3 separate regions of the Homo sapiens genome follow, and regions 2 and 3 are each linked to region 1. Evidence: fine-mapped expression QTL. A gene starts in region 1. Each other region holds a variant in brackets. All regions are shown on one strand. Distances are from middle to middle.

Region 1 (7,195 bases):
TCCTGACAAGGGCATTTATGGCAGGAGCACCCGACCTGGAGGCAGGGACCAGGCTTCTCAGCCTGGTTTGGCTCTCTCTAGCTCTGGGCCTTGGGTGAGCCAGGGGTCTCTTCTGTAAAATGAAAAATTGGTCTATCAATCCGAGGCCCTCCCCTAGCCCTACCATCCGTGTAAAGCCATAAGCCTTTGTAACTCACCATCAGAATCTCTAGGCCTAAAAGAACTCCCTCTAAAATCAGTTCTAGTCAAACGCCAGCCTGGTAGTTTTCAATCCTTGTTAAGGATTGAAATCCTAAAATCTTTTTAGGGTTAAGATCAGAAATGTAACCTTAAGGAAATAGAAGAAAGCAGCTGAAATACATATTTTTAAAGTGATAAACTGATTCTGATCTATTTCTCAGGGGGTGAGGGGGAAGGCAATACAGTGAACTTGGAAAAAAGAAATATTGAAATGTCAATATAATATCTTTTATGGGTTCAAGAATTTATCCTAAACTTTATCTTTTACTGTGACAGTCCCAGAGTCCTCAATAAGAGCTTCAAAAATTTTAGTGGGGTTTCTGGAAGAGTGCTATCACTATCTGGAAATTTCTAAAAGGCTTCTCTCTTTTTATAAAAAAAAAAATTCCTATGTTAAATCTATGATTTGTGATTCTCAACAATGGAATACTAATGGATACTCAAAAAACACTAATTGCTCATTTTTTTCCTAATTACGAAATGTAATAATTCTTTAGTGAAAACATTAAACATGATGTCATTTTTAAAGTGCCAGACTTTGTATTTAAAGCATTGCCACAAAATAGATAGCTTACTTATTTTACAAATAGCAACACAAAAAGGGTCTTCTGTGTCTTTAAGTCTGTTTAGCATATCTGAAAGTGCTTCTTCCTCACACTTAGATATTTAAGGCAATTGCCCCCCAGTTTATTACCTTATCTCAATTGTATAATTTTCTTAAATAGAATTCAGAGAAATAGTCATAGATTTAAATTTTTAAACACTAATTAAGCATTGGTTGATTCCCATAATACAGCTGGTAGTCAAAGTGGACAAGATAATGAATTGACTGAGATCACTGTTCCATCTTCATCCAAGAAAGCTGCCTCTAAAAAAAAAAAAGACCTTAAATTGCTGTAGAAATCCAATTTGTAAGAAGCAAAAGAAGCATATAGATGGGAAACACCAGCCAGGATCACATTAATTTTGTGACTAACTGCATTGCTTAGAAGAAGAAGAAGGAGAAGGAGAAGGAGAAGAAAGAAAAGATGACAAAAATAATAAGTCCACTCAAATCCCAATTTTAATCCAACAACATAACCAGAAGAAAATGAACTACAAATACAAAGTTCACATCTTAGTGATCTAGTGAACACTACACACCGACAAAATAATTTTTAGCTTAGTAAGAAGTAAACTCCAATGACAAGAAAATATTATAGGATTGTGATACCTCATTGCTAAAAAGTAGATTATAGTAAGAAATTGGGAGTCTAGGAACTTGCCATCATGGAAACTCCATGATTGATTGGTTTTGAATGTGCAGGTGTGGGAAACTGACAAATCATTGTAACAAAAATCTTAAACTTACTAGAATTGAAAATCTATGCAGGAAAAGTCTCTGTGACAAACTACCATTCATTTAGCCACCTATTCAAATAAAAGCTGTGACATAACAGAGATCTAGAAATAAGGGCATGGTTTCCAATTTTTTGTTGGAATGTTCTAATAAACTATCTTCTCAGGTATCAACTATATAAGGTCACGACTGACCGCTAATTGACAGGCAATTTATCGGCACCAGCAATTTACATTAAAAATAGTGGGCTTGGAGATATTTTCAAATATGTTTACTATGAGTTAAGTTGAAAAATAAAAACCACTATAATCAGTAAGGATTTAAAAATAAGAGATCCATATAAAATGCTATAAGCAAAGGAAAATGAGAAACATTTCTGGGGAGACACAAGTGAGTTTTATTATACTTCTTCTTTTAAGTTTTAGAACTAAAGTAATAGTTGATATTCAACCCATAGAATCATCCTTCAGGGGCATACACATCTAGGTTTGAATGCGGAAAACTGTTTTATTGTTTTTTTTTAATTTTTAGGTTTCTTTTTCAAGAACTTTCTTATTAAAACTTAAATACTTATTGAAGTGATTCATGAAACCTCACAGAAAGGGGAATTCATGCTTGACACATTACTTAACATGCTCCATAGCTTCCCCACTGTAGTTCATATGCTTCTGAACATATTTTACCTGGGAAATAATAGTCTTATTCACACACACACACACACACACACACACACACACATCCTTCCACATAAAATGCTATAAGTCCCAGGAAACTGACAAAAGCAACATTAAAATTTTGTGCAAAATCTAAACTCCATTTCTGAATTCCATCTATGAAAATACAACATTGGTTCTATTTAACTAAGTGCAAAGTTTTCTCTCTGTTTAATATGCATAATAAACATCATCCTTACCATTATCTGTAGAATAAAAGCAGCAACGTGTTGCTTCCTGCAGTCACCAAATCAAGTTTTTTCTTCCTTTCTTTCTAGTAACTTCTGTTTCACCAGCAAGATTAGGAAGAAAATAAGTCTTGAGTATTTGCCTCAGTATTTCAGACCAGAAGATAGTGAAACTAGCTTTTAGTAAAAAGAACAGGTCTGGTATTTTACAATTACTTCTGCAACCCAGAGGTACCTCCTAGACTCTGGTACCTCCCTCGTTCTCTAAGTTTCTTTTAGTAATGAGACTAATTTTTCCAGTAGTCTTGAACTCCCTAGATTTAACTGACATGGAAAATGTGACTAAAAATTTGTGGAACTGTCTAGCCTCCAACCCTACACAGAATCAACTTTGTTGTAAATGTTGAAGAACACCTCGCAAGCAGCTACATGCTCAGTTTATACTCCTGCGCTACGCAGCAGAGAACACCAAATAACAGTGCGCCATCTAGTTAGCAAGCTGCAATCTCCATGCTAGAAGGGGGGACACTTTCAAACCCTGGGAGTTAAGAACTTGTCAGGGTTCAGCTGCTCTAAAGGTCCAATTGTTTGTTTAAATAAAAAAAAATATCGCTACTGAGATAATCCACATCTAGTGGATATGGGAAAATTTAGGTTATAATGGCACTACAAACTTTTACATCTAACTTTGATTTACAAGATAAAAGCAAGTTTTAAATTAAAAGGGCTTTCTGTTAATAGAGCTTATTATTCTGAAGACGGGAATGATTTTCTTCGAAAGTTGTCCCTGGGTGCATGCCTATTATCTTTGCTTTTCCCCTTCCACTAATGAGCATTTATCTAAAGAGCCTGTTAATCCTCTGATGTGTGCTTCTGGTCAGAGGTAACAGTTTGAATAAAACCACTAATCACTGATCACTAAATCACTGATCATTAATCACACTTTCCAGTGCCCATGACTGGGCCATTTTTTTTCCTTTAAGTCTATGCATCACAAACAAGAAGTTCAACATTTTCGATGCACATATATTGTGTGGAGGTTACACTATTTCATCTCTAGATGTGAATAAATACTAAATCCTGCCACAGACTTGGGGAAGGATGTCAATTAGACCCCAGACAGGAGTTTCACAAATGCCTACCCTACAGCATGGCTTTCGCTTTGAAGAAAGTAGATCTAATTATAAGAAAACATGTGTTCTTCAAGAAATTCCCACATATTTGCAATATAAACTTTTCTTTATTTAGTTTTCACCAACTCCAAATCAGGGACCACTCCAATCCCCTCTCTCCCTCTATCCAAAACTCTGTTAATACTTTTTTAAATTTAATTTCTGCTGCACACCTCCCTCACGCCCCCACCCCCCCACCCCCCACACCGAGGGTTCTTTTTACTTTGATCCCTTGCAACAAGTCATACACAGGGTCTTTATTTCAACTGCCAGATACGGAGGTTCTGACTCAGTTCAATGACTTACGTATTCGACTTCCTCTTTCAACATAGAAACTTAAGGTTAAGAGCTAGAAACTAACGCACGCAGCAATTTATTGTATGGAAGTTTAGGTTCAACGACTCACATTCCCTCACTTTGGAAATGAAACGTTTAGTCTTGATCCTTTCAGCTAAACCTGATTTTGTCAGCATCCCTCTTCTGCTAAAGGGCAGGCACTACGTAAAGTGAAATACTTTGTTTGCAGTGGGTGTATTGCTTTCCTAAGTCACCACCACGAGGACAGAGTATTATCATAACGCTTGCAAACATTTCCTGATTTGCCTTTTCTATCAGGACTAAGCATTTTCGCCCTAGAGGAGAAGGCTTACTGGTGCCTTTCTTAAATAATACAAAAGGGCGGATTGCGCGCTGATCAGGTACAGTGGTCCCCTCAGACCCCAGAAGCTTTTACCCACACTCCAGGGACCGTGCTCGCCCCAGGGAAAGCTGTAAAAAGGCGGGGGCGGGGCTAGAGTGATAACGGTGTAGACGGGGGAGTGGTGGAGAGGGAGGGGCTGGGAAGAGAGGGCAATAAAGATGCCCAGGGAGCCGGCGATTGCACGAGTGTGTTGTGGGGAGGGTAGGGGGATGCAAAGCAGAGTTGCTTTGTCAGCATTCTAAGCTCCTGAACCCTTGAGGAGCTCAAGCCGTTAATCAAACACTTACTGGCCTGCAGAATGACGTAATGGACCTGTATCCAGTCTTTATTCCTTGACACATGTCAGAGAAGGAGGGAAAAATAAAAATCAAACACATTCTGCAGACTGACAACGAAATATACAAGTAGCCCGCTCCAGTCCCCGGCCTTGAGCAAGCATCAAGTGGGGGCGGCACCGGTCCAGGGAAAGTTGGGGATGGGGGTGAGAGTGTGGACAAGGTCTAGGGCTTTATCTACCAGACGCCCCTTAAAAATAAATCTATGGCAAAGAAGAAGCGGGATGCAGCTGCTGAGAGAAAACATCTCCTTGGTTCCTTCCTTCGCATCTTGCCCCTCTAAGAACTTCGTGAAAAGTTCAAGTGATTCTGCCGAGAATCTGCCGCAGGGGGAGACTCCGCCGCCAGGTCTTGGGAATTGCCTGGGCGCCGCCAAAGCTCGAGCCGGAGCTGTCATTTGGGGCAGCGGCCGGGAAGAGGTAACGATGCCAGCAAGAAAGCAGCGGAGGCAGGAGGCGGCCGGAGGAGTGGACTGGAGCGGACGGAGCCTCGCCGCTCTCCAGCCCGGAGCGCCTGGAGCGAAAGCCAAGCGCCCTCCGAGGGCGACCTCCCCTCCCCGGGCGCGCGCCCACCCGCTGCAGCCGGCAGCCCGGCGGGAGAGGTGGCAGCTGCAGCTCCGCACCGGGGAGAGCGAGCCCCCTGCGCGCGCGCCCACCCGCCCCCTAGGTGACCCGGCGTCCTCGCCGCGCCCGCTGGAAGTTTGCAAACTTTCTCCGGGGGTTCCGCCGCCACGCTGGGAAGCTGGGGACGCGGGGGGAGGTTCCTGGCTCGCCGTCTCCGCTGCCGCTTGACCGCACTTCTGGAGGGCTCCGCACCTTGCCAGGTCTCTGGAGGCAAACACACACCCCCGATTCATAACTGGTCCCCGCGTCAGGGGACTCGCGCGCTCCCACACACGCACGCACGCCGGGCGGACTCGGCGCCGGCTCCACGTTAGCATCCCTCCAGGCGCGCGGCGCGGCGGCCACCGAGCGCTCCGGCACTCACGCGGCGCGGGGTCTCTAGGGTGGCCTCAGGACACAGCCGAATTCCACAGTCTACCAGCACTCGGGGCCGGACTTCCCTCTGGTCCGCCAAAATGTTTACAAACACAGATCACCCTCCAGAAAAAAATGCATCGCATCTTCCCTACTCCTTGCCCTGTGACCTGCCCACTGGACCAAGTAACCTCGCGGCTGCTGCCGAGAACCAACCCCTGCAAACAAGTACACTCCCGAGATGGCTCCTGCGGCAAGTGCAACAAAAGTGGCTAAATGCAAAAGCCCCAGAAGTGGCCGAGCCGTATTTTTAGGAACTTACCAAACAAGTGTGGAGAAGGCAAGAGCGGAGCCCGGGTGAAGGGACCACGTTGGACTGAGCAAAGATTACAATACATTCTATTTAGAGTGCATTACATCACCCCCCCGGTGACGTCACGTGGGATTCCTGAACTTCTAAATCATTGCGGTCCGCTGGGGAGGGACGGAGCGAGGGGCGGGGCCGGCGCGTCGAGGGGGCAGGCCCCGCCCCGGTCCCGCCCCGACCCCGCCCCGCCCGCGCGGACCCTGGTGCACCCGCCCGGGAGCGGCAGCGGCGGGGGCGACTGCGCAAGCAACAGCTTGCAGAGCCCAGCGCCGTGTGACACGGCTCCCTGACATTAGTGGTGTGAGTCAGCTTGGAAACAATCCTTATGGTTTCAGACAAGACCACGGAGGAGGCGCGGGCGTGGGCTCTTCTGCGGGGAGGGCCTGATGGGGTTTGAAAGGTGTAGGGATGGGGGTAGGGGAGAGGTGGGGAGGGGGATGCTGAAGGATGTGGGAAAAGACTTTGCAAACAGAAATGCAGGACGCTCCTCCCTCCCCCACCGGAGGATGTCCAGCTCCTTTTTGCTTGCGACAGTCATGACCTCATTTCAGTGCTCCCTGCATCCTGGCTTTTCAGAGCACTCACTTGTCACCCCTTCTTCACCGCCCCCTCATCTCACCTCCTCCAGGAGAATAACTTCCTTATGGTGCACACTCTCATGAAATACACAGCCCCACCCTTCGCGGGACCCCTGCTTCATGCGTCTGAGAAGCTGTAGGGAGAGTTGCTCCTAAGGCGAAAGGTGAATCACAGCTAGAGCCAAGTGATGAGCCTGATTTAGACACGGCGTCAGAGCCGAAAGGGCCCTTGGCTGTCACTTCCAGAGCCTCTTCGGTAACTGGCCCAAGCTCACGGGCTGGGGAGCGGCAGAGCCAGGGCCAGACTGCAGGATCCGGGCGCCTGGTCTGCAGCGAGAGGAGCCTGGCGTCTCCAGTATCCGGCCGTCACCATCACTGTCACCATCCCCCTGCTGAATTTCCTTTCAGAAGTTCTCCCTTTGAGTAGGATTCAAAGAGAAGGCATAGGCTAAATCCAGCCCGATTCTAGACGACCAATGCCAACCTCGCAGCCCCTCACACCTTACAAAGCGCTTGCGACCACGTGATTTCCCTTGTTTCTCACACCAACCCGGGTACCAGAAGTAGGACAGGTATTATAATTATT
Region 2 (7,195 bases), 290 kb before region 1:
CTCCCTGAGCTCACAGTCACACGGAGAGCCCCACCCCCATTCTGAGCTCCAAGTCAGCAATTCTGTTTAGGTTTGAGCTTGTCAGTTAGTGTATTTTAACGAATAATCTGTGGTGGAATCCACACCTAGCACAATCTTCCAATATCTATATTCCAAATAGATGACGGAATTTTGCAGCTGAATGGCAATAGCTCCAGCAGCAAGAGACTTCCATGAAAACAGAACTCTTATAAAAGATCTATTGGATCTTCCCGGCAGCCTCTGCTTATCCCGTGCCTCCTGCAAGGCTCTTCGATTCACTGCTGCCCTCACTCATGCTCTTATTTCACCTTTTCTCGAATCTCAAGGCAGGGTCTCTTCGGCAGTTTTCAAATATCTCTCCTGGGAGACCAAATTTATGACACCCTCCACCCAGCCACTCGCTGGGATTATTTCAGCTCTTTAAAAGGCAGCGCTAGAATTTATTAGCTCCACGATACATTGGCAGGGGAGGGATGTGTCGGTGGCCCAGAGGGAGTGGTTTTCAGCAGCTGTGACTACATGCATGGACTATGCAACCTTGGGCTGCTAAAAGCCTGATTTCTCAAGTTCTATTCTTAATGATAAAGTGATAGCGTGCTGAGAGGATCACTTATTCTCCAAGGAAACATGAACAAGGAAAGGGGCATTGCCTAACAAGGCTGAGCAAACTCTTCACTGGGTTATATCCTAACAGAGAGCTTCAGGCTCTATCTCAATCACCGCTGTGATCAAATCACCAAAAACCCTGGGATCAGAGTGAGGATTCCCAAAGGGATCCTTGTCAGGCATCATGGGGAGAAGGGGGAGGTGTGGAGAATTTGGAGAAGGTTCCAGAGAAGCATGAGAAAATACTAAAAAGCCGGAAGGGAAGACTTAATGGGAAAAGTAAAGGAAATAAGACTTCTTTAGCCCATGGGGGAGACATTAGAGAAGGCTGGCAGATAATGATGATGATCTTCAAAGTTGCAAATTACTATAATCTGAGAATGGTCACCAGTTACTTTCAAACACAACTGAAGCAGAATAGTAACAGTACATCAGCAGCATGTGGATTTAACTTAGAAAAGAATATCTCCCAAGAACAAATAGTGTAAAACAATTAAATGGCTAATAGAGATTTTGAAATTTCCTCTTCTTGGGCTCTTAAAAAATAGACTTGTCCCTGTCTGACTTGCTTTCTAGGGAGAAGGAGGAAGAACTGGCAAACCTCTCGGAGTCCTAAATTAGGTCTATTATTGTCACTTATTCCAGACATAGTGGCTGACAGAAATGATAGAGATAACGCTGACTCCCATCCTTAACCAGGAAATCCAATAAGGTAGCCTTGTGGGGCTGACAGGCATAGGCTTTTGGCCGCCTCCTGGCTCTGCCACCGACCAGGAGTGTGTGATCTTAGCAAGGCATCTAACTCCTCTGTTTTCTCATTGGCAAAAACTACGTGGCTGTAATATCCATGTCACAGGTATGGCATGAGAATGACTTTAGAGAATATTTTGAGTGTGCTTAGCCCTTTGAAGACGATCAATGCATAATCTATTTAAGAGATGAGTGATCTGCTGTAGAAAATACAGTTAATACAACTGTCATTTTAAAACACAAAGTAAAGCTATATTGTTCTAAATTTGGGGGTGAAGCATTTGGGGAAAAGACCCAGAAACACCCAGCCTCTCCGAGGGGTATGGGTGTCTCCTCCATTACTGTGAGTCCCCAGTTATCCCCCATCCTCTTCTCAGGGAAGCCGGCTTTCTCTCCATGCCAGACCCCTTACAGCAGGTACCAGTCTCTCTTCTAGGCTGAAGGGAGAATATTTGAGAGCACTGAGCTTGGCACACAATAGGAGCCCCACAGAGGTTTCTTAACAGACTTAACAACGTTACCTCATGGTCCACTATCTCTTATTTCCTGGCAGCTATACCCCTATGTCACATCCATGACAGTCATCTTTTTAAGGGCTATGATAACTTGAAACACTATCCTGATTTCTAGGGACAGTCAAGCTACCACTGGCTTGAACAGGGGGTATGGGGGAAGGGTGAAGTTTCTAGGAAACTGTGTGCTCTCTCTTGTGCAACCTTCCCTGAGCTACCTTGCAAGTTCTCCCACTTTGCAAGAGCACTTATCATGAAGCAGAATTGATATTAATCTGAAACACTTAGTAAAATAGTAGCAATAAAGCTCATAATAATGATACTTGGCATGTACTTTACACTTTGCATTCAAGGATCTCAAATGGCTTTTCAACCTGGCTTTGCTATTTTCCAAGCTACTCATGGACTGGACACACAAGCAAAGAAACCACTGAGTATGGCTTCCCTGTAGACAAAATTGATTCCATTATTAGGTTCTGAGATTGACACTGTGTCCAATCTATGTACATAAATACACCTGCTACATACAAACACCCACAGATACCTACATCCTAAAGGGCAAAAGTGCTAGAAAGATTTTTTTTTTTTTGAGATGGAGTTTTACTCTTGTTGCCCAGGCTGGAGTGCAATGGCACGATCTCAGCTCACTGCAACCTCTTTCCCCCAGGTTCAAGCAATTCTCCTGCCTCAGCCTCCTGAGTGCCTGGGATTACAGGCAACCATCACCATGCCCATCTAATTTTTTGTATTTTTAGTAGAGATGGGGTTTCGCCATGTTGGCCGAGCTGGTCTCGAACTCCGGACCTCAGGTGATCTACCCGCCTCGGCCTCCCAAAGTGTTGGGATTACAGGCGCAAGCCACTGCACCCGGCTGAAGATTTTTTTTTGTCTCAAACACACTTTTGCCTGTATTAGCAGGAGAAACTCTGGAACCCAGGTTTACATTTTAATGGACTTGTTTTATTTCGATATTTCTCTCAACCCTCTTCTCAGGGTATTTATAAGTACAATTGAAATGTCTGTGTCTGTTCATTAAAGGCATGGAATTTTAAAAGGCTTACTTTTCTTTTGAGTTCATTCTAAAGAATATTTTGTTTACGTTTAAATGATTACTTAAAAGCCACAAGGGGTTTATATAAAGTGTTTCTTCTAAGGTACTTTTCTCTTCCCTGGTGGCCCTGCATGTTGCCAAAGAGAGTGACTTGCTCAGTTTCTCAAATGATTCCTCAGACAGTCCTATTCCTACTTGCAAACAAATGTGGTATTTGGGGTTTCAAGTTTAAAATGCAATTTGGTATCATTTCAGATGTCTTCCTACAGCTTAATAAACATTTTCCCCAGAGGGACTTGGGGTCTGATTTTAATTTGTGGTAGGGTTATGGGCACAGTAAATGTCAATTTTAGCTATAGACAGTAAGTCCCTAGTATAAATAGAAACGGAAAGTGACTGACAGTACACTTAAAGAACATGCAAAACATTATGCTTGCTCACTGGCGGTAAGTGTTCCCCC[A/C]AAAATCCCTTCACTGGTCTGTCATGATAGCTTGGTTTTCTTTTCTTTCTTTCTTTTTTTTTTTTTTTTTGAGTCAGAGTCTCACTCTGTCACCCAGGCTGGAGTGCAGTGGTGAGTGATCTCGGCTCACTGCAACCTCTGCTTCCCGGGTTCAAGCAATTCTCCTGCCTCAGCCTCCTGAGTAGTTGGGATTACAGGTGGCTGCCACCACACCCAGCTAATTTTTGTATTTTTAGTAGAGATGAGGTTTCACCATGTTGGCCAGGCTGGTCTTGAACTCCTGACCTCGTGATCCGCCTGCCTTGGCCTCCCAAAGTGCTGGGATTATAGGCGTCAGCCACCATGCCCAGCCGATAGCTTGGTTTTTTTCTTCAGATTCCTGACCAGAACAGAAAGGCCAAATTGTGCTTTCTTAAGATGTGTCAACCTGATGATCACAAAATGACAAAGTGAAGTAACTGAGTCCTGCATGATATGGCTTTGAATATGAATACACCAGCAAGAGTGTCTACTGACTCAGCCAGTCATTTGCCTGGTGATCTAGGGCTGTGTCCTCAGTGCCTCTGAGTTTCTGTTTCCTCATGCACACACACACAAAAAATGGCTGAACCAACAATCTTCAAGGGCCTTTTCAACCCTAAAGTTAAATGAGTAGATATGATCAAGAGAGAGTAATCCGGCTGGGTGCAGTGGCTCACATCTGTAATCCCAGTGTTTTGGGAGGCTGAGGCGGGAGGATCTCTTGATCCCAGGTGTTTCAGACAAGCCTGGGCAACTTAGCAAGATCTCATCTTAACAAAAAATTTAAAAATGAGCCAGGCATGGTGGGGTGCCTGTAGTACTAGCTACTTGGGAGGCTAAGGTGGGAGGATCACTTGAGCCCAGGAGTTTGAAGACACAGTGAGCTATGATCGTGTCACTGCAGAAACAGAGACTCTGTCTTAAAAAAAAAAAGTGAGAGATCCAGAACTATTATTTATTTCAGGGAAGCAACACGTCAGTTAAAGGTAGATTTTCCTCAAAGGTGGACACATATAGATGAGTAATTCCTTACTGGTTGTTCTTGGACTTTCCTTTCCTTGAACAAAAGAAAGGCTCAAATGATCTCTGAGTGCAAGTAACATTTAGCTGAGGAGGGCAGCAGGAACCAGGAATCGTGACAGGTAGGCGAGGAGGTCATTTCTTCTCACATATGAACAATAATCCTTTGGATGAGCAGGAAATAAAGGTTTCACTCTTTGTGCACTAGAATAAGTAATTTATTAGTAAGCACAATGACATCTTTTAGGAGAGGTAGGACAGGTCCCCAAATAAGCAGTTCTGTCTTTTCAGTGTTGGAGCCATCAGACTCATTGGGACTAGGTTTAAACTGGACATTTTGAGAATGATGAAAATCCTCCAGGTCTGCCAGGAAAAACATTTCACTACTTCATAGTAGATGATACCTGACACCACCTGCTAAAGAGCTAAGATGACATTCCCTAAGTGCCTAGGTTGAGTCCTATGGATGATCCAGTCCATGGTGCCTGTGATGGTAGGTTTTATGTCAACTTGACTGGGCCATGGGTTGCCCAGATATCTGGTTAAACATTATTTCTGAGTGCACCTATAAGGTTGTTTCTGGAAGGGATTAACATTTGAATTGGTAGACTGAGTAATGCAGTATACCTTCCCCAATGTGGGTGGGCTTCATCTAATCCATTGAGGACCTGAATAGAAGAAAAAGGTGGAGGAAGGTTGAGTTATCTCTCTCTCTGCCTGATTGCTTGAGCTGGGACATCTGTCTTCTCCTGACCTTAGTCTGGGAGCAACACCATTGGTGCTTCTGGTTCTCAGGCCTTCAGAATCCAATTGGAATTTACACCATCTGCTTTTCTGGGTCTCCAGCTGGCAGATGGCAGATCATGGGGCTTTTTAGCTTCCATAATCTGGTGAGTCAATTCCTTATAATAAACCATATATCTCTCTCTCTTTTTGGTCTGTTTTTCTGGAGAACCCTGACTAGTACAGTGCTCCGTCTTTAGATCTTTCCCCTCATATTTCCTTAAATATATTTGGTAGAAGTGAATTAGCAGAATTTAGTCATTAACTTTGAGATTCCTCATCTTGTACTTCTAATCATTCACCAAGTTCTATTCACTCCACCCCCAAAATAGACCTGGAGTGTATCCACTTGGCTCCATCCCTACTGCCAAGATCCTAGTCCAAAACACAGTGTTGTTTCTCTTGGTTTCTTCCAACAGTTTCTGACTCCAGTTTTGCTCTTCTTCTATCCAAACTCTGTCTTGTAGCCAGAATGATCTTCATAAACCAAAGATCTGGTCATGACATTTCCCTGTTCAACATTCTTGCATGATTTTCCTTAGCATTTAGGATGTTTTTTCAGTATCTTTTATATGTTCTACCTCATTGATGCCTGTAGTACTATCTTTCCACCTGGCTTGAAAGGGTCTATCCACCCAAGCTTCCATTCATTTCCTAGAATGTGCCACACTCTTTCCCACCCCAGGGCCTTGAAGCATCTTTTGATCTTTGCCTGGAAGGTTTTGCCGTCTGCTCTTTTGTTGACAAATTCTCATTCATCCTTTAGGTCTCCTTTTAAATATCTCTTTCTTAAAATTTTCTTTGACCCCCAAATTAAAGGCCAAATCTAGCAACCACAAAGTTAAAGGGTCACATAGGCCCCTGTGGTTTTCCTTCATGCTATTTCTAATAACATATTAATAGGTATGGTTATTTTGTTTAGTATCCATCTCTGTGATTAGTCTCAAATCTCCCTGGAGGCAGGGGCTATGCATTTGGGTAAAATCATTCTGGTTTCCTTTCACCATTGGGAAAATGTACGCTTACTTTCTGGAGGACACTGCTCCGTCTGGATGGAGAAGCAGAAAGGAGAACATCATAACATAGTTGGAAAGGCTTCTAGAAGTGAACAAGATTGATCCAACATAAGTGAGCACCGGAGTGCTTGCCTCATGATATTGGTAATAGATCTTTCTGCTTTTCTGAAGCCTGAGGCTATTTCTCTTGACAAGCACAAAAGTGAAAATGCCAAATGGAAATGTTTTCTTTCCAAGGCTTATAATTTTGCTTTCGGGTAATACTGAAACATTCAAGTGTTCTTACGAAAGTTAAGTGCTTTCCATTTTCACCATGGTTTCAGTTGTTGAAGCTCTCCAGAAGGATCAAAACCTATAACTTTTATATAAAATTCCCAAGCATCAAATATATATGCCAAACAAACCTCTTTAATTAAAATAAGGCTGAAAGAGCTATAATTATAAGTGCCACGGACTGCTATTCCTTATAAGGAAGAAAACTGAAAAAAGACCTTCTGTTATATTACTCAAAAACAAAGCAAACAAAATCAATGATTTCAAAGTCTAGCATGGCTGAGAAAATTCATTTTCTTAATATGGATTGAACTTCAGAGTGATAGGGCAGAGTGGACATACAAGAATGACTGTCTACAGCAAACTTCTGGCAGACTCTTTGGCCTATTGGTTCACAGCCAGTATTTGTCTTCATAAATGAATTCCACATCTTTATTAAGTTAAGTATTTCTCTTTTTATTATTTGAAACATACTTTAAATATTTTGTTTTACAACGTCCTGGAAACTGATACAATTCCTTCCAGATCAAGGAAGATGGTAAAAAATCAATTATATTTTTTTACTTATGGAGCAATTACAAAAAAATTATGCTCCAATTTATCCATTACTATAACTATCATTTGATGTCATATGTGAACAACTTGGGCAGCTGGAATGGAAGGTGTCCTTCTGACTAGGTAA
Region 3 (7,195 bases), 260 kb before region 1:
TCTAAGTTTAGAGAGCAAGATTAAAAAGAAAATCATAAAGCATGTTTTAAAGCAATACACCTTATTAATGTATGTGATTTTAAGACTTCTATGCCATTTCTCACTTTGAGAGGGTCCCAGGGCAGTTTGGGAATGTGGGCTGCCCAGCGGGTTCTAAGAGCTGCTTTCCAGGGGACAATAGGAGCAGATGCTTTCTGGATTTTTCTCCATCTGTGAAAACAGGTATCCTGGGACAGGTTTTAAAATGGGGAGGTCCTTTTAGAATGTGTGATGATAGCCATTGTGTTAGACCCAAAAGGCCCTGAGTATACAAACAAATGGAAGATTTGAGAAATTCAATATCCCAGATTGCAAACACCAATTAATACATTTTAAGATTTAAACGCTAAATTGTGGATGTTTCTGAAAATCCTTGTATTACTCTGGGTAAATCCAAATTTTGCTCAACAGTAGTGGCACTGGGTCTAAATCAATCCTTCCCTCCCCAGAAGATGGCCTACACTGACTTAGAAAAGGGCAGTAGAGGTAAGGTATGGGGCGGGTGGTTTCTGGGGTCCAGGGGACTCAAGGTAATCTAAGAGGCCAAATGCCATAATGGTTACTTCAAATTTATGGAAAAAGAACAGGAAAATACCCTAAAATTTTCAAAGTACTTTGTTAATACAATCTCACACAGTGTTGGAGCATGAAAATTTTAAAGTCCAAATTTCCTCATTCTGCAGGTGAAAAAACTGAACTAGGGAGAAGTTAAGCTGCTTGCTTGCTCAACCACTCCAGACCCCCTTCTGAGTAATTCAGAGCTGTTTCTATGACAGCACTGGGAGGGCTGGTATCTCTGGATTGTAGGGGAGGTCTCATCCAGTAATTTCCCTGAATTCGTTGTTGGCTTTGGGCTGGGGAGTGGAAGCTGTGAAACTGAACAATATGTCAGCCTTGGGTCTGAGGCCCAGGGCATTTCCCGTTAACCAGGTCAAGACAGCCAGTCTCTGTCAATCAGAGTTTATCAGAGCCTATTTTATAGTACGTTATTAAATGCCATGATGTTTTTGTAACCAAATAAATGCATTATGAAAAGAGCATTTTTTTTTTCTGCAGTTCTGTACAACATCCTGGATCTGTTCTTAGAAGCAGATAAAAAGCAATAGGGACTCTAGCCACAATAATACCAATTTATATGTGTTACAAAGCAATCTGTTATCTCCTTTAATCTTCTTAAAACTTTTCCCAAGGAGAAAGCTGAGATTAGAAAGGTGTAATGACTTGGTCAAGAACACAGATTTATTAACTAGATCCCAGGTCTTTTAAAACCTAGTCCAGTGTTTGTGTGTGTGTGTGTGTGTGTGTGTGTTTTTTTTTTTTTTCCATAATACAACTGATCTCCTTGTCTGGTGTCCTGAATGTGTGTTGTTTTATTTTAGAAAGTGATTTTTGTATTTAATTGTTTGGGATGATTGCAACTTGTTTTTTAATTCATTGTAGTAAAATATACGTAACAACAAAATTTACCATTTTAATCTTTTTAAGGTGTAAAGCTCACAGGCATTAAGTGCATGGTTGAAACTTTGAAGGTAAAAAAGATTAAGAAAGTGTAATAATAATTATTATAATAAAAATAAGAGCTAACCAGAAAGTCCTTGCTAAATGCCAAGCAATGTACTAAGAGCTAATCTGTAAGGTCTCTTCACATTCTAAAAGTAAATCTGGCTATTTTTATCTTTCTTTTACAGTTGAGGAAACAAAAATTCAGACAGGTGAAGTAACTTGCCCAAGGTCACACAGCTGGCACGTGGCAGAGTCCAGTCACACACTCAGGCAGTTGACTGATGTGTTCATACTCTAATCCACCACACCTTGTTGCTTTTTCTTTGAGGCCACTAAACAAAACAAATAAGAACTGAAAGGCTCAATTCGTCTTTCTTGGTTTCTCCGTCTGGTTGTAACCTTCACATGTTGACTGGCGACTAAGCAACCCAAGTCCCACCAGAATTTTAGATGAGGTACCTGAGACAGGGAAAAAGGCCAAAGTCTCTTGCTTCTCCCCAGTCTGAAAAATTAGGATTGCTGTGTTCTAGTTGAACTAGCAACATCTAAGAGTCACCCAAGTTACCCAAAATTATGCTTATGCTAAAGCAAGCGATAAGAGAACCTCAGTTTTCTGGGAAGAGATCATAGAAAGCAGGAAACGTATTTTTAAATAGGAAATGTCTGAACTCACTTGACAATAAATGTCACTAAAAAAACTCAACCAATTTAGTACACACTTTTTTTTTTTTTTCTTTTTGAGACAGGGTCTCACTCTGTCACCCAGGCTGGAGTGCAGTGGTGAGATCACGGCTCACTGCGGCCTTGACCTCCCAGGCTGAAGCAGTCCTCCCCACCTCAGCCTCCCACGTAGGTGGGACTACAGGCCTGTCCTGCTCATTTTTAAAAATTTTTGCAGGGACAGGGTCTTGCTATGTTTCCCAGGCTAGTCTCGAACTCCTTGCCTCAAGCGATCCTCCCGCCTCAGCCTCCCAAAGCACAGGCATGAAGTCACCACTCTCCGCCACAGTTATATTTTCTGCAACAGTCCATTATCAAAAAGTGTGTGGCCAAGTGCAATTGCCTGAGGCCAGGAGTTCGAGACCAGCCTAGGCAACATAGTGAGACCCTGTCTCTATTTAAAAAGAAAGGGAAATGGATTTCTTTACAAATTGTTTTAAAGAAATGTAATGGTAACTTCCTCAACAAAGCAGGCTACTACAGAGTTGTGGAAAGAATACACACTGTACCAACATGCACATGCCTATATATTTTCATATTAGTGAACTTCTTTGTTTTGACTTGTATTGATTTATAGTTCCAGGCTTTTTAGATGGCACATGGGAGATATGTAGAATTAAAGACAAACTTAAGACAATTTCCTCATATAAGCTACATATCCCCTTATGCCGTACTCTGTATCAAAGTAGTCATAGATGAAATATGTTTATATTATTTTGGGGTAAAGTGTCAGCTTCTCTTAGTCTGCATTAATGACTACAGAAAACATTCCTAATGATGGAAACACAGTAGCCCAAATTCAGGTAAATGGTCTTAACGGAGAGATACATTTAAAATCACCGACTAAAAGGCAATGAGCTCAAATATAGTAGCCCTGCCTTATTCACAGCTTGGTTTTCTGCCGTTTCAGTTACCTGCAGTCAACTGCAGTCAGAAAACAGGTGAGTACGGTACAATGAGATATTTTGAGAGAGAAAGAGAAACCACCTTCACATAGCTTTTATCACAGTATATTGCTATAATGGTTCTACTTTATTATTAGGTATTGTTGTTAGTCTCTTATTGTGCCTAATTTACAAATTAAACTTTATCATAGGTATGCACGGATAGGAAAAAGCAGTATATAGAGGGTTCGGTATGATCACAGGTTCAGGCATCCACTGGGGGTCTTGAAAAGTGTCCCCTGTAGACAGGGAGAATTATTGCAAGCACTTTTCAGACCATGTACCAACTGGTCTCAAAAACGTTTTACTTTCTCTCGCATGTGGCAGAGAACATGAGAACACGGTCAAAGGGGATAGTGACAGCAGGAGAATTGGTACAGAAAGCAAGAAGAGAAGCCCAAGGTAGCGGGGGCTCCCCTTGTTGTGCCTGGTGTGTCTGTCCCTTGAGCAGCCCTTGGCTTTGAGCTGAGAGTTACATCCTTATGGCAGGGCACAGGACGACGCAGATCCTAGGAGCAGGTGAAATTACAGCAACAAAGATTCTTGACACAGGAAACAGACTTCCAGAGCTTACGGTAAAACAGTAAATGCTTTACTTCTATGAGCTTGGCTTGTAGCCACTGTTATAAAAATCAGCCAAGCCGTCCCCTGTTGCCCTTGATGTGATGGTCCTGTGTTGAAGATAGAGTCCCACAGTGGTGTTTTGTTGTTGCTGTTTCTTTTTATTTTGAA[AT/T]AACTTCCGATTTTCAGAAGTGTTGTAAGCCTAGAGCAGAGCCTTCCTGTATGCCCTCCACCAGCTTCCCCTCATGGTAACATCTTACACAACCCCGGTACATTTACCAGAACTGAGAAATTGACGCTGGTACAGTACTATTAACTTAGCTTCAGGCTTTATTTGGATTAGTTTATTTCACTAATTTCATTTCCAGGAACCAATCCAGGACACAAACATAAAGGGGTTTTAATCATTTTATTCCCTTGCTCAAAACACAAGCTCTCAATTGCTAACAAATCAAAGTAAACGTTGCCTAGTTATTTGGTCACATCCTATATTTTAGCATCATCTGCCACTATTTACCAACACGTACCCTGTAAGTTTTGGCTAGAACCAAACTGGACATGTTTGATTTTTCTCAATACATCTTGATCTTCCCTACATCTACAACTTTGCTAATGCTGATCCTTCAACTTGAAACATCCTTCACAGCTCATAGTTCTGCAGTTTCTATGAGACCCATATCAAATGTTTTCATTGCAAGAAAGGGTTCCTGGTACCTCAAGCCAGATGTGTTCTTTCTTGACTAAGAATTTCTGATGCACAGTATTGGTGCCTTTCTCGTGTTGCATACTGGGAAGGATACCACTACACGGGGCCTCAGAGCAGGGCAGAGTGAAAGGACAAGGTCTAGAACTGAGGGTCAGCAAGAGGGCCCCAGCCTCTGAAAGAGGAGGGTAGCAGCGGGCCGTGGACAGAGCATTGTGATGAATTTGACATGAAACTTCACACTCTCACTCACCGGTAAAACTGAATGCCATGGCACGCTTGAGGCCTAACAATATGATCTGATTCTAATACAGACTGAAATTATAGAAATAATATCAAAGAACCAGATAGTTCCTACCTAAAATACTCCCCGTTGCTTTCAATGTAATAAAACCTATTTTCATCCAAATCTGTTTAGAAGAAAACCTAACCCTTTGTGAACTCATTTTGTTTTGGTTTTTGTACATACTTCCTTCTCCCTTCCTTACTATATTAAAGATTAAATCAGTATTTTTTGTTGTAACATAAACTTTACAGGAAAACATATATTTCATTGGCCATAGCAATTCTTTTGTCATCGTATAAAACCACACTCACAGTTGCATAATTAAAATAGGATTCTGTATAGTTACAAACATATAATAAAAGTAATTACTAAAATAATGAGAAATAAACTTTGACATGTCCAGAGATGTTTACAAAACCCAGACAATGGAAAAGAATATATGACCCTTCATTTTGGAATGCAAAGCACTCATTTTTTCCTTCAATTAAAAGATGCTATACTCTTTTTATTAGTTTTCTTATATATCTTTTAGCATTAAGCTAGCAAAGAATTTAATAAAAACTGAACAGCATAAAGTGAGGTCATGCATTAGACCTGGGAAGGGAAACTTCATGAAGTTTCTTTCCGTGTCCTCATAACAATGAGTCCTGAAACAAGTAGAGTTTATAAGAGACTTAAACGTGGTACAACCTAACTATAGATTGGTTTATGAAAATGTGTGATTTTTGTATACAACTCTGTAGTACTCAAGGCTGGGGAAATTATGCAAGAAGAAGTATGATTAACTTCATGTGACTGAAAGGCAGACGTGCATTTTTTAAACCTTTAAATTGTCTCACATAATGTAAATATTCTCCTTTTTAAAGGCAAAGCAAAAGTTTGAAAACTTTGTTAATAAGAACCAAATATTAACCACTTGCCATATTTTTCAGTCTAACATATTTCTCAAAGAAAAGTATAAATGTGGACTAATTTCGAGTCCATTAAACAGGTATTTGTTTTCGTTTCCTCGGCTTTGTCATTTTAAGGAGACAGGCTGGATTCGGCTTCAAAAATGGTTGTATAGAAAAATTTTTATTTGCAAACTTAGAAACATTTTGTGAGTTTACAAATAAACAGAATGAGTTCTTATATAACACCAAGAAGTTTTCTTTTTTAACGGTTTCATCTTTTTTTTCTTTTCTCTCTTTTATTTTTTTAAAACATCATCTACTTAGAGAATGATTCCCATCCCAAAGAAAATATTTGGGCAGATTTATTCATATCCTTGGTTTAAAAAGGATATAAGCAGGCTAAGCGTATTTCATGGAAGAAAGGAAATATGCCCACAGTTTCTTTTATATATTAACAAGTGCTTTTTATTCCAAAACCTCAAAATATTCTGTATCTTTAAAAATTTGAACACCCTCAAGACAGAAATTTCTAAGGGGTCACATAGCATTTTAATTGCCCCAAACAAAACTTGCTGGCAGTTTCGAGCAACTAGATAGGAAGGGTAAGTGCTTACAAGAACACACTCATGCCAATAAATAGTATCCTTGATAATTCTGATTGACATTCCAGCTCCCACAGTGGGATTCAACAGCCCCACCCAGGGACAGCATGCATCTGAGAACTGTTTGAAGGTGTATATCTTTCGGATTTGTTTACAGTGGCTTGTTCACGGTCAGACAGAATTTTCTACATGATTCCAAGAGCATCAGTCCTCGTTTCACTCTTCACAAAAAAGCAGATCCCCAAGTCTTGTCGCTGGTGACCTATTTGATCCAAGCAAAGTTTGTGACAAGCAAGCTCCACTATAATCAAATAACTAGGGAAATCATTTTGAGGTTTTTTTTTTTTTTCCTAAGAAAGGGTCTCTCTCTTTTGTCCAGGCTGGAGTACAGTGGCATAATGATAGCTCACGGCAGCTTTGAACTCAAGTGAGCTCAATTGATCCTCCCGCCTCAGCCTCCAAGTAGCTGGGACACACTCCTGGCTAATTTTTTTATTTTTTATTTTCCCAGGTTGGTCTTGAACTCCTAGGCTCAGGTGATCCTGATCCCCCTGCCTGGGCCTCCTGAGTAGTTGCAATAACAGGCGTGAACCACCATGCCCAAGTTTGACAAAGTTTGTTGAAGTGGGATTTAGCTTGCAATGTATCCATTTTCTCCTGTTCTGTTGTACCCTTTCTTTTCCTCTTCCCTTTCTTTGGGCTATCTGGTCCATGGCGTTTATTTTAAATAAAAAATATATATATTTTAAAAGTAAACAGGGTTTGGACTGATTCTCAAAAAAGCCGCACCTGCATATGTAAAGGATCCGTTAACATCAGGAAAGGAAAGTGATTTGGGACTGACTCAAGTCAGGGAACTACCCACTGAATCATCACTGACACCTCCAGGGTTTCTTTGGAGGTCTCTCATAAGAACAGGGATCTAGCCCAACCCTGTTCAGCTT

Alleles and levels. Positions count from the first base shown, and alleles are read on the strand shown. Sizes are in standard deviations (SD) of each study's normalised expression. Not every link is listed here.
For the expression in monocytes after R848 of the gene that starts at base 2,892 in region 1, allele A in region 2 goes with a higher level than allele C (small effect, 0.39 SD a copy in Quach 2016).

Evidence for each region. PIP is the estimated chance that this variant, and not a neighbour inherited with it, causes the effect. A credible set is the group of variants that fine-mapping cannot tell apart.
Region 2: its variant is the best candidate, but not a certain one, in a credible set for the expression of CREB5 in monocytes after R848 (Quach 2016, PIP 0.51).
Region 3: its variant is the best candidate, but not a certain one, in a credible set for the expression of CREB5 in blood mononuclear cells (TOPMed, PIP 0.50).

Annotation. Positions count from the first base shown.
Region 1 is chr7:28,408,215-28,415,409 of GRCh38, reverse strand. It overlaps CREB5 (cAMP responsive element binding protein 5), which reads right to left and starts at 2,892. Exons shown (of 11, transcript NM_182898.4): 1 at 2,493-2,892. The coding sequence starts at 2,495. RefSeq lists an enhancer at 2,806-2,895 and silencers at 6,168-6,237, 6,206-6,500.
Region 2 is chr7:28,701,640-28,708,834 of GRCh38, reverse strand. The region is part of intron 5 of CREB5 (cAMP responsive element binding protein 5); the gene reads right to left. Among named protein-coding and RNA genes, the nearest start is that of TRIL, 250 kb to the left of the region's middle. RefSeq lists an enhancer at 3,995-4,064. The variant A/C (reference allele first, on the strand shown) is at 3,401.
Region 3 is chr7:28,666,342-28,673,536 of GRCh38, reverse strand. All of the region lies in intron 5 of CREB5 (cAMP responsive element binding protein 5), which reads right to left. Among named protein-coding and RNA genes, the nearest start is that of CREB5, 260 kb to the right of the region's middle. The variant AT/T (reference allele first, on the strand shown) is at 3,939.